Linked DNA regions of Homo sapiens. The protein of the gene in region 3 purifies or fractionates together with the protein of the main gene of each other region. This does not show direct contact. Each region holds a gene or a part of one and is shown on either strand. Other genes may lie near its edges.

What was found. The genes of interacting proteins can lie anywhere in the genome.
Region 1: the proteins of REG1A (region 3) and COP1 purify together in Homo sapiens (affinity purification with western blotting, with the first as the bait; one study listed by BioGRID). This does not show direct contact.
Region 2: the proteins of REG1A (region 3) and NAA20 purify together in Homo sapiens (affinity purification with mass spectrometry; one large-scale study listed by BioGRID and IntAct). This does not show direct contact.

The regions. Positions count from the first base shown.
Region 1 is NC_000001.11:176,043,287-176,046,786, reverse strand, and holds part of COP1 (E3 ubiquitin-protein ligase COP1), read left to right. Parts: intron 1-462; coding exon 463-606; intron 607-2,968; coding exon 2,969-3,077; intron 3,078-3,500. UniProt on the Homo sapiens protein: E3 ubiquitin-protein ligase that mediates ubiquitination and subsequent proteasomal degradation of target proteins.
Region 2 is NC_000020.11:20,020,362-20,023,861, reverse strand, and holds part of NAA20 (N-alpha-acetyltransferase 20), read right to left. Parts: intron 1,407-3,500; coding exon 1,382-1,406; intron 1-1,381. UniProt on the Homo sapiens protein: Catalytic subunit of the NatB complex which catalyzes acetylation of the N-terminal methionine residues of peptides beginning with Met-Asp, Met-Glu, Met-Asn and Met-Gln. Proteins with cell cycle functions are overrepresented in the pool of NatB substrates.
Region 3 is NC_000002.12:79,119,360-79,123,287, forward strand, and holds the start of REG1A (lithostathine-1-alpha precursor), read left to right. Parts: upstream 1-1,128; 5' UTR 1,129-1,155; intron 1,156-1,456; 5' UTR 1,457-1,502; coding exon 1,503-1,566; intron 1,567-2,202; coding exon 2,203-2,321; intron 2,322-2,628; coding exon 2,629-2,766; intron 2,767-3,481; coding exon 3,482-3,593; intron 3,594-3,788; coding exon 3,789-3,856; 3' UTR 3,857-3,928. UniProt on the Homo sapiens protein: Might act as an inhibitor of spontaneous calcium carbonate precipitation. May be associated with neuronal sprouting in brain, and with brain and pancreas regeneration.

The DNA of each region.
Region 1 (3,500 bases), on a different chromosome or scaffold from region 3:
CAAATTATATACTAATTTATTTATTAAAAATAAAATTTAATATTGTGAAATTCTACTACCTCCACAAAATGGCAGGGAAATAAGTAGAATGTATGGAAAAATTAGTTGATAATTGTCTTTTGGCATACTTTTAGTATATCAAATGATTCACGCCATTAAATCTTTCTCAGTAAGCTGTAATATGGTTATTAGAACTGAATGAAAAGCATGTCAGGTGTCTTGGAACAAAAGTACACCTGTGCACAATTGTGTAGATATACAAATGTATATATTAAAAGTTTTATATTACACAAATCTCAACAACTTTTAATTTGATATGTGTTGATTACTTAATCTGGATATGAGGTCTAGTACAATTTGAAGGTATTTAAAGTAGATCTTTTATCCTTGTAGACCGAATTACTTTAGAAATAGAAAATAGCAAATTCTGAAATGTTGTCATTACATACTTTTTCCCCTTAGTATTGAATTTGACCGGGATTGTGACTATTTTGCGATTGCTGGAGTTACAAAGAAGATTAAAGTCTATGAATATGACACTGTCATCCAGGATGCAGTGGATATTCATTACCCTGAGAATGAAATGACCTGCAATTCGAAAATCAGGTATTTACATTATTTTCTTGACATGATGCAGTATAGATGTAACAATTTGCATATGTAATTATCATGAGATTATTTTACCTTTGCATGACACTTTTTACTCATGGTGAACACTATTATTGTACTATGTATACAGAGTATATATTATTACTTATATCATCTTTCTTACAGATATTGGTTGCTTTTTTCTTGTGAGGTTAGCCTTTTTTTTTTTTCTGGTTGCCAAATTAAAGTTCTTCTTTCACTTAATCAAATAAAGGTCTTTGTTGGACATGGTTGTTGGAGACTCTATGGAGTACTGAATGAGGATTAATGTAGCTTATGAATAGTATTTGAACATCAGGAATTTTTCCCCTAGCCTGCACATATCTCAACATATTAGAATTGTTTCTAGTTTTAAGAATTTTTTTTACAAGAATATTCTGCTTTTCACTGAAGGAATGGTGTTTATGTTTTCTGTATTAGAGATTATACTTTATAAGCAGTGCTTTTCAAACCTAAAATACTCTTAAACACTAACAGTATGTTAAGACTCTACTCCTGATCTGCTCCCCAAAAAATCTCAGAAGAATTCTAGAATCTGCTTTTTTTTTTTTTTTTTTCCTTCTAAACAAGCTTCCCAAGCTGTTCTCATGAGCACTGGCTTTAAAAGAGAATTATATGAGGAAATCATCTAATAATAACTTTGTATAGAACTTTGAACATTTTCAAAATAGCCATCCTTGAACCTTTTTTATCTTTAATGAATGGCATACATAGTATGTTTGTTACAGTCTTTGTATAATTTATTTGTTATAACTTTCTTTTTTCTAGTTCATTTATAAAAATACTATATCGATAATTGGTGAGCTTCCCCATTCATTTGTGGCACTCATCATTGAGAATCTGTTATAGTTTATGTCCTAAGTGAAGAGGATATAACATGAATTAGATACAAGTTTATTGAATTCTTATATATCAGGCATTATCCTAAGTGCTTGGTCTTTAGCAGACCTATGAAATAGTTACCATTATTGCTCCATTTTATACAAAGAAAGCTGAGCACAGGAAGGTAAATAACCTGCCTAAGATTATACACCTGCTATATAGAGGAGCCAGGATTCAGACTGAAGTAGTTTGGTTCTAGAGTCTGTGCCCTTAAACATTTCCTGCTCCTTATTTATAAAATGGAGGTCACAATAGTAATACTTATTTAATAGGATTGTACTTTTAAAAAATCCCCATAATGCACTCAGAACAACACTTGGCCCATGGCAAGTACTCATAATATATTACATAATGAAAACGTGGATTAGAAAGTTTAAATGTGCTGTCTACCTGTTCTGTATTTGTATGTGTAAAAATGTGCAATACTTCCTGATATATTGGAATAAATGGTGAAAGCGCTCAAGGCTGAAAGCTGTGGGCCTGGGGCTGAAAGGATCAATACCTAAGGATGCCTAAAATAGATTCGGAGCACATCTACTGTGAAAGTGTACTAAATTAGCCAGAGCCACAGCTAATAAGTAACAGATCTGGAATTTGAACTCAAGTCTACCTAAATTCAAAATGTGTCTCTTAATTGTTCCAGATAATTTCTACCAGAAATTCTAATTAAGTATATTTAAAAATGCAAATAAACTCTTCCAGTCTCTGGAATTTAGCATCAATGCAACTAGTAGAAAGCAAAAGACCTTGTGTTCATGTCTTAGAAGTTACCTACATTAACTGCCTTCTAAGTAACTTCTTCCATAATATGCATTCCCTTTACTATATGCGTGATGCAGATATGTATCTCAGCAGAAGTTTTTAGATGTTGTAGACTTCTGGAGTACTTGAGAATAGCCAAAACCATAAATGATAAAAGTTTGATTCTAACTTTTAGATGCTTTTAATTGGAATTTTAGTCATAAGTTATAATTAGTCAAGTCAAGACTTTTGGGATGTAAATACAGAAACCCAATTCACTGTAGTTTATTTGGCTTATATGATTTGGCACAACTGGATCCAGGGGGTTAAACAGTCTCATCAGGTCTGTCATTCTGCCATGGTATGCCTTGAGCCCTCTGGATAGTATCACCTTCACTGATAGACATCGTTTCCTCATGTATCAAAGATGGCCAGTGATAGCTCTAGGCTCACATCCATCTTAACAGCTAGTGATCACAGTAAAAGGTGGTTAGGGTCATTACTTGTTAATTTTTATTTTTAAAATTTCAAAATTATTGGTATGTCTTTTCCCAGGTATGTTGTGGGCAGAATAATGATTGTGAACTGATAGAGACCATTTTAAAATAGTGCAAATCTTTCTGAACACATTAAAATTATTTTTATCCCATTGTTATTTATTTTTATGTAAAGTAACTTTTAACTGTATTTCTTTCAGCTGTATCAGTTGGAGTAGTTACCATAAGAACCTGTTAGCTAGCAGTGATTATGAAGGCACTGTTATTTTATGGGATGGATTCACAGGACAGAGGTCAAAGGTCTATCAGGTAAATAAGGGTACTAGTTACATGTTATATGAATCATACATTTGGTTTGTTAAAACTTTTAGAACTTCATGTGCCTTATAATTACAGATTTGAAGTCACTATTTAGTATTTTTTATACCTGTGTAACACCTATGCAATACCAAATGCTTTTTTTTCCTGTCTCCCACTTTTGGTACCATATGCTTTTCCAAAGCATTTCTTCAGACTTCGGTCTTTATGGAATGTATCAGGTAAATTTCTAAAAGCAATAATTTTGGTAAATGTATAAAAAGTTTTGGAAGTACTTTATATCAACATCTTATTTGCTTTTCATTTGTTTTCTAGCCTGTTGTCTTTCCCTCTCCCCGTAACAATAAATTGATATCAGGTTTTTTTTTTTCTTGCTTTATTCATTTTGAGATCTGTATTCTATCTGAGGCTACT
Region 2 (3,500 bases), on a different chromosome or scaffold from region 3:
TTGTCACTAGCAATTTATGAGAATGTTCCTCTCACCTCACCATCATCAGCACTGAGGTTTATCATTTTTTAAAATCTTGGCTGATACATAAAATATGGCATCTCATTTTGGTTTTAGTTTACATGTCTTTTGACTGATGAGACTGAACTCTTAACACGTTCATTAAGCTCCTATATGCCCTCTTTTGATAAATTACCGGTTAGCAGAACCCTCCTACCCACCTACAGTAGATACAGAGCATAACACAGAATCCGAACTTTGTGTTGTAAGCCACTAGAGATGTGGGGTTATCTGTTACAGCAGCATAACCACAGTATCCTATCTTCACATCTTTGCCCCATTTTTCCATTAGGACAATAATAGACACTGTTCATTGTTACCTCAAAGCCTTCACTTTAGTAACAAGTCCCAATTTATAAAGCAGGGCACATTTCTGGACTCTAGATAGGATTCAGTAGACAGGTGAAGCATGAAACAGGTGCTGGTCAATGAGACAGAGCGGGCCTGTGTGGCATTTCCCAAAGGTACTCTCCTTTTTTTTTTTTTTTTGAGACGGAGTCTCGCTCTACATGTAGCCCAGGCTGGAGTGCAGTGGCGCGATCTCGGCTCACTGCAACCTCGGCTCACTGCAACCTCTGCCTCCCGGGTCCTGGTTCAAGCGATTCTCCTGCCTCAGCCTCCTAAGTAGCTGGGATTACGGAGTGAGCCACCACGGCTGGCTAGTTCTTGTATTTTTACTAGAGACGGACGGGGTTTCACCATGTTGGCCAGGCTGGTCTTGAACGCCTGACCTCGTGATCTGCCTGCCTTGGCCCCCCAAAGTGCTGGGAGTACAGGCCCAAAGGTACTCTTAAAAGGGAAGAACACCCTCACCTCCCCCTCTGCTGTTTCTGCTGCCGGAAACATGGCTGTGATGCTGTTTGCTGTGGCAACATCTGGAACAAGGTTACGGCCACCCTGGGAGGGGTAGAGTGCTTAAACTGCAAAGAGCCTGGCTGTTGGTGTCTTCATGGAAGCATCACCTGCCTGGGACTGCTTATCTCCAGACTTTGTTCACACTGGAGACTATGCAGCCACCTTGCTGAAGTCACTGTGCTTTCTGGTGAATACAGCCATGCTGACTCCTGAGGGGCAAGGTTGGCAGGGGAGCTATGATGTTACAGATTTCTACCAAGTCATGATATTAACAGTTTGTCAGCAGATCTAAGACAACTCTTGTTCTCAGTTTCACTTTTTAAAATTGCTTTCAGTGTTGCTTATGATGTTTCCTGACCTACAAGTTTTTAAACTTTTCAGTACTCCTCTGTTTTCCTTTCATTTCTGTTTTCTTTATTCTCAGTAAATCTTCATTCAACTTTTTTTTTTTTGTAAAAAAGGATACAGTTTCTGTAAGTGGATCCAAGTTACTGAAAGAAACAAGAGAAATGTCTCTAGTAAGCAGCGTTTACAATAACCAGTTGAAATAAGCCTGCTAAAGCTAACAGTAATATGCCACAAGGAAAACAAAACATGTTTCATCAACAACTTTAAGGCCAACTTTAGGGCTGAGGCAGATGATTTAATCTACCTAATAGCCATAATAAGCTGTCACAGCCACTATTAAGGTGTTTACATATTTTTTCACTTAACTGCTACTTGCTTCTTTAAAATTCAAGTTAATAAATCTACATCTTGTGTTTTCTAAGTGGCAATAAATTGCTAATGGAACTGGAGACCAACTAGGGATGTATCTCGCAGAGACAGAAGGTCAAACTCGCCCGCTGCAGCATCCAACCCCATGGATCCTCCCCGCCTGTGTCTGGGTCTTCCCTGACAATTGCTCCTTTATTCCACCCTCTAAATGTGGTCACTCCCACCACTCGGTTTTTGCTCCCCACTCCTATTCTACACTCCCACCTCCCTGTCCCCACCATCCCCATTCCTATGTGTTCAATCACGTGTTCTTAGTGGATGCCTCCCAACCTGGCTCCGATGCTGTGGGCAGCTCACCAGCACATCCCAGCACACCATTCCCAAATCTGCATTCTGAAAACCCATCTCCATCCCCTCACTTCCCTAGTCAATTAATGGAGCCACTATTTTGTCAGGTTCAAAACCAGCTACTTTTCAACTGTTCTCTTCTGATTTCTAGTCAAATTCTCCTTTGAGACCCATAACAATGCTAGTCATATCATATTTCTGTAGTCCAGCAGTTCTTAAACTGTTTGGTTTCAGAACTCCTTTACGCTAAAAAGTTACTGAAGACTCCAAAGAACTTTTGTTTATACGCGTAATATCTACTGAGATTTAAAAATTTTAAATATTCACTCAAAAATAATAAATCAATTACACGTTAACACAAATACCTTTACCAAAAAAATCACTATACTTCCGAAAACAAAACAAAACAAAATCCAGTGACAACAATGGCATTGTTTTAACAATTCTGCAACGTCCTGCTTAAAAGACAACGGGATTCTCAAGCATTTGTTATGCTTGCTGCTGAAAGATCACACCTTGGGAAGCTCCACTGTCTACTTGTGAGGGAATGACAGTGGAAAAGATGAAAAACCTTCTTAATACATCATGAAGATAGCTCTAACCTCACACAACACCTGAAACAATCTTGGGGACCCCAAACCCTGGCCCACTCCTTGAGAATCACTGCTCTAATACAGTGCAGGGAGTCACTCCACCACACCTTTCGACGACTGAACTGCTTTATCTCCTCTTGTCTGCCCACCCGCACCCTCACCTCCAGCCCCGCCATCTCAGGGGCTTCCTATTTCATCACTAAGAAGAGAAAACAGGAAGAAGTCTTTGCCAAAGTCCCCCCCCCCCCCCGCCCACCGAACCCACGCACACAGGCATCTGCACCCATATGCTACTTGCTCTCCTGTCAATAGGCACGGAGTGCGGGCGAGAGACCCCCTCAGTACTCGGGACCCTCCTCCTGCAATTCTCTTTCCCTCCTGCATCTGCATCTTCAATTTCTCTTTCCTGGAAGAAATGTACAAATATGATGTGCACTGAGCCATCAGCTCCTCTTGAACAGCTTCCCACTCCTGGGACAGCCTGAAATGCTGTCTTCACTCAGCTTCTGAGACCATGGGGTTCTCCTCTCACCTCACTGAGCCACACGGTCTCCTTTACTTGAACACTTGATGCCCTAAGGCGCCATCTTACAAACTCTTAGCCTTTTTTTCTACACTTGTGCTGACCCCCAAATTTCCATCTTTAGCTCAGACCTAATCTTGAGACGCCCATGCCCAGATGCCTTCCTGGCCCCTCCACCTGGGTTTCTTGGTGCACTTGGCAGAGAAGTTCAGGTCTTATGATGGCCTCTCCAGGCCCTGCCCTTCTAACTCTCTGCTGTTATCCCCTTACCCTCCCATGCTCACTCTGTACCAGCCATGCGGCCTGCCTCCTATTTGAAACAGGGGTGTCTTCACTTACTGTTCCCTCTATCTGGAAGCTCCCCTGGCCCCCAGTGTTCATGTAACTCATTCCTAACTTCCCCA
Region 3 (3,928 bases):
CCACACCAGGCCCATCATCAGTTTTTATATAAAGAAAAAAAAACCTTAAAATTGTTAGGCAAATACTATGACAAATTGTAATATATATTCTTACATTTCAGATTTTTATTTTTTAAACTGTATAAGAATTGATTAATAAATAAAATTTAGTATTAATCTGTCTTTTAAAACCATATATAAAGTTTATCAAATAGCTTATAACTTCTTGCAACTGAATTTTTGTATTCAATGTTATGGCTTTGATACTAGTCCAAGTTGAAATATAGATATCTACTTTATTCGATTTAAATTCTGTTTAGTATTTTATTATATTTTGTTAATCCATTTGTCCCAATTCATATACTTATCTCTCTTTCTGTGAATATTCAGGTTAGTTTTTTCTTCCTAATTTTGCATTCTGATTGGCTTTTATTCCCTGAATTATAAATGACTATTCTATGATGATTCTGGTAAATACTCAATTTCACCACACAATCTTTGACTTCATACTAACAAACAGTTGACTTCAAATGGACAATTTCAATGAAGCCTGACTTCATATTTAGCTCCTTTAAGCTTCCTTAGGCATCAGCTCTCTACAATTCTCACATTGAGAATATGTGTATTTTGTTAGCTCAAACCTTGTTAGACATGTTAAATGTTTAGAAATATAAATTTAACCTACCCCTTGAGGTAGGTCTTGAGAGGTTTGTGAGCCTAAAAAGACATGGAGGAACCACTTATTGCCACAAGCACATTGTTCTAAATTATTTGGAATCAGTTAATTCTTCCCCATCTCCTACCCATGCCTGACACCAAAGAGGAGCCTCTAAATTTACAGGGAATACAAGGAAGTCTACTGTTCTCTGCTCCTCTCTGGGTTATTAGGGCACATGGGAGCCCTCAGTTGTTTTCTGCTGAGCAAGAGCAAAGTCCACCTTGGACTTAGACAGCTTGCCAAATTTTTTGCCAGAAGGGGACCTGAGTTGTGACCACTCCCAGTGTGTGCCGGGAAAAGGCTCGTACTGGTGCCAGAATCTCTTACTGTCAATGCTCCCAAAACTCACCGCTTGCCCCCACCCCTTTTGCTTAAATGACGTGGTTCTTATCTCAGATCCTGATATAAAGCTCCTACAGCTACCTGGCCTGAGAAGCCAACTCAGACTCAGCCAACAGGTAAGTGGGCATTACAGGAGAAGGGCGTCTCTAACATGCACTGTAGATCTAAAATCTTCGGGAAGATACAGCATGAGTTTCTGTCCAAGAGGTTTTAGCTGTAATGAAGCCTCAGTGGGATCCAAAGTTGTTTTTCAGTTACTGAGTCTGTATAATCCCCACTCTCAAGAGAAACATTTGAAGGTGTGGGTGTCTCAGAGGACCTTCCTGGTCTCAGAAATTCTGAGAGGAGGTTTTAAGGAAGGTAATAGGTGCTTTGCTCTCCATCTCTCAGAACCCCCTTCTCTGTGTTCTCCTATAGAGATTGTTGATTTGCCTCTTAAGCAAGAGATTCATTGCAGCTCAGCATGGCTCAGACCAGCTCATACTTCATGCTGATCTCCTGCCTGATGTTTCTGTCTCAGAGCCAAGGTAAGATCTCTTTTCCACCAACCAACTCTTTCTAGCCCTGAAGACTTCACTCTATCCCCAAGCATACGGGTCTACTTGAAAAAAAAAAAAAAAGCAGAGTCACTGTTAAGGGTTGTTTTGTGGTGTTTAGTGATCTTTATTGCTGATCTCTTCACATTTATATACATCCACACCTCATTAAGGAGTTGGAGCTAGAATTTAAAATGACCCCTTATAAGCAACTGCTGCAGTTGGCATGAGTTTATCTGATTAAATTTATACGTGATGGTGGATTTGGGGATGTCTGTGTGTAGACAGTCACTAATGGGGTGGAGAACTGAAGAGAGCCTTGTGTTCAGGGAAACCAAGTCAGGCTTGAGAAAGTAGAAGGCTGAGTCCTTCAAGGTAGAAGAGCCTGAGCTCCAGACATAAAAGGGAAACTGGAGACTTGTTTCTTTGGCCTATTCATTCTGTTTTTTTTCCCCTGATCAAAGAAACCAAAGACAGAAGATGTAGGATGCAGGAGCAATAGTGAGCAGTCATCCCATAATAGACTGGATTCTTCTGTTTCTATAAAGGAACCTCAGAAGCTCTTACCTCACCTTCAAGCCTTTTCCTTACCCTGAGAGCCTCCTTTAATTGTCTCTTCTTTTTCAGGCCAAGAGGCCCAGACAGAGTTGCCCCAGGCCCGGATCAGCTGCCCAGAAGGCACCAATGCCTATCGCTCCTACTGCTACTACTTTAATGAAGACCGTGAGACCTGGGTTGATGCAGATGTGAGTGAGGAGAGCAGTGTGGGAAGGGAGACTCATGAAGGGAGGGGAAGCTGCCACTCTCCAGTGTGTTCAGTGGCTGCAATGAGATGAGACTGAACCCCTTGCTATACTATCATCAGCCCCAAACTTTCCAATCTACTTTATCCCATTATTCAGCACATTCCCAGCACAAAGAACCTGGTGGTCAGTGACAGCATCATCACGGACATTACTCTGCTGTCCTTTTTCTGACCCGTCCTCTTGGAGGACTCAGTATATCCGTCACAACTTCCTCCTCCACTGAGTGCTCCATTTTCTTCTGCAACAGCTCTATTGCCAGAACATGAATTCGGGCAACCTGGTGTCTGTGCTCACCCAGGCCGAGGGTGCCTTTGTGGCCTCACTGATTAAGGAGAGTGGCACTGATGACTTCAATGTCTGGATTGGCCTCCATGACCCCAAAAAGGTAGGCTGCAGCCTTCTTTATCTCCTAATGATCAGGTTTGAGAAGTAAGAAGGAGGTTCAAGTTCTGGTCTCTTAAGTACCAGCTTTTATCGCTTTCCAGAAATCAGGCTGTTTACAGATCCTCTAATGTCCTGTGTAGCAAGGTGCACTGTAGATGATTGGAGATATAAGTGGAAGGCTGAATTTCCTAGGTGTTCTTGTCATTCATGAATAAACTTATTCTGTTTTCAGTCAACAAAGCATCTTTATGCACCAACTTCTTACCTATTTTGTTACTGTCAGAGTCACAAGAGAGACTAGATTGCCGACTATATAGGAAAGGAGACTTGTGGTAAAAATCTGCTGCTGTACTGCTGGCATTTGGGAACCTGGTAGTATACTAAATAATATAATATATCAACAACTAATGGTCAGCCAATGCTATGCTGGATATGAGGGTCCTGGGCCACAAAGACAAAAAATCAGGAACCACTTTTTAAGTGAGATACTTTGGGTCTCTGTCAAATTCATAACACTTATTTCTTGGTGGAATACAGTTAATGAGTTGGACAGTTCAGGAAAGAAGTTTAGAGCAATAGCAAAGGAAAGGAAACAATATTTAGCAAGGTTTATTCTTCCTTTGTGTCTTAGCATGTTTCTGAGTGTGCACACAGGCCCAGTGATTCCATGTATTTTTGAGTGACCACTGCCTCTGTTCTGGCCCTTCCCCATCTAGAACCGCCGCTGGCACTGGAGCAGTGGGTCCCTGGTCTCCTACAAGTCCTGGGGCATTGGAGCCCCAAGCAGTGTTAATCCTGGCTACTGTGTGAGCCTGACCTCAAGCACAGGTGAGAGGCAGAGAATCCATCCACCTGTTTCTGTTCTCTCCTGCTTAGCTCCAGGGATGGAACTGGGACTGGGATAGAGGAAAGGTGAACTCCTCATTAAGGAAATGGATGTTTGGTTTTTGTCCTGAGTCCTAAAGCCAGGAGGGTCATACTCTTTCGGGTCTCCCAGTTGTAACTCTTCTCATTGACTTATAGGATTCCAGAAATGGAAGGATGTGCCTTGTGAAGACAAGTTCTCCTTTGTCTGCAAGTTCAAAAACTAGAGGCAACTGGAAAATACATGTCTAGAACTGATCCAGCAATTACAACGGAGTCAAAAATTAAACCGGACCATC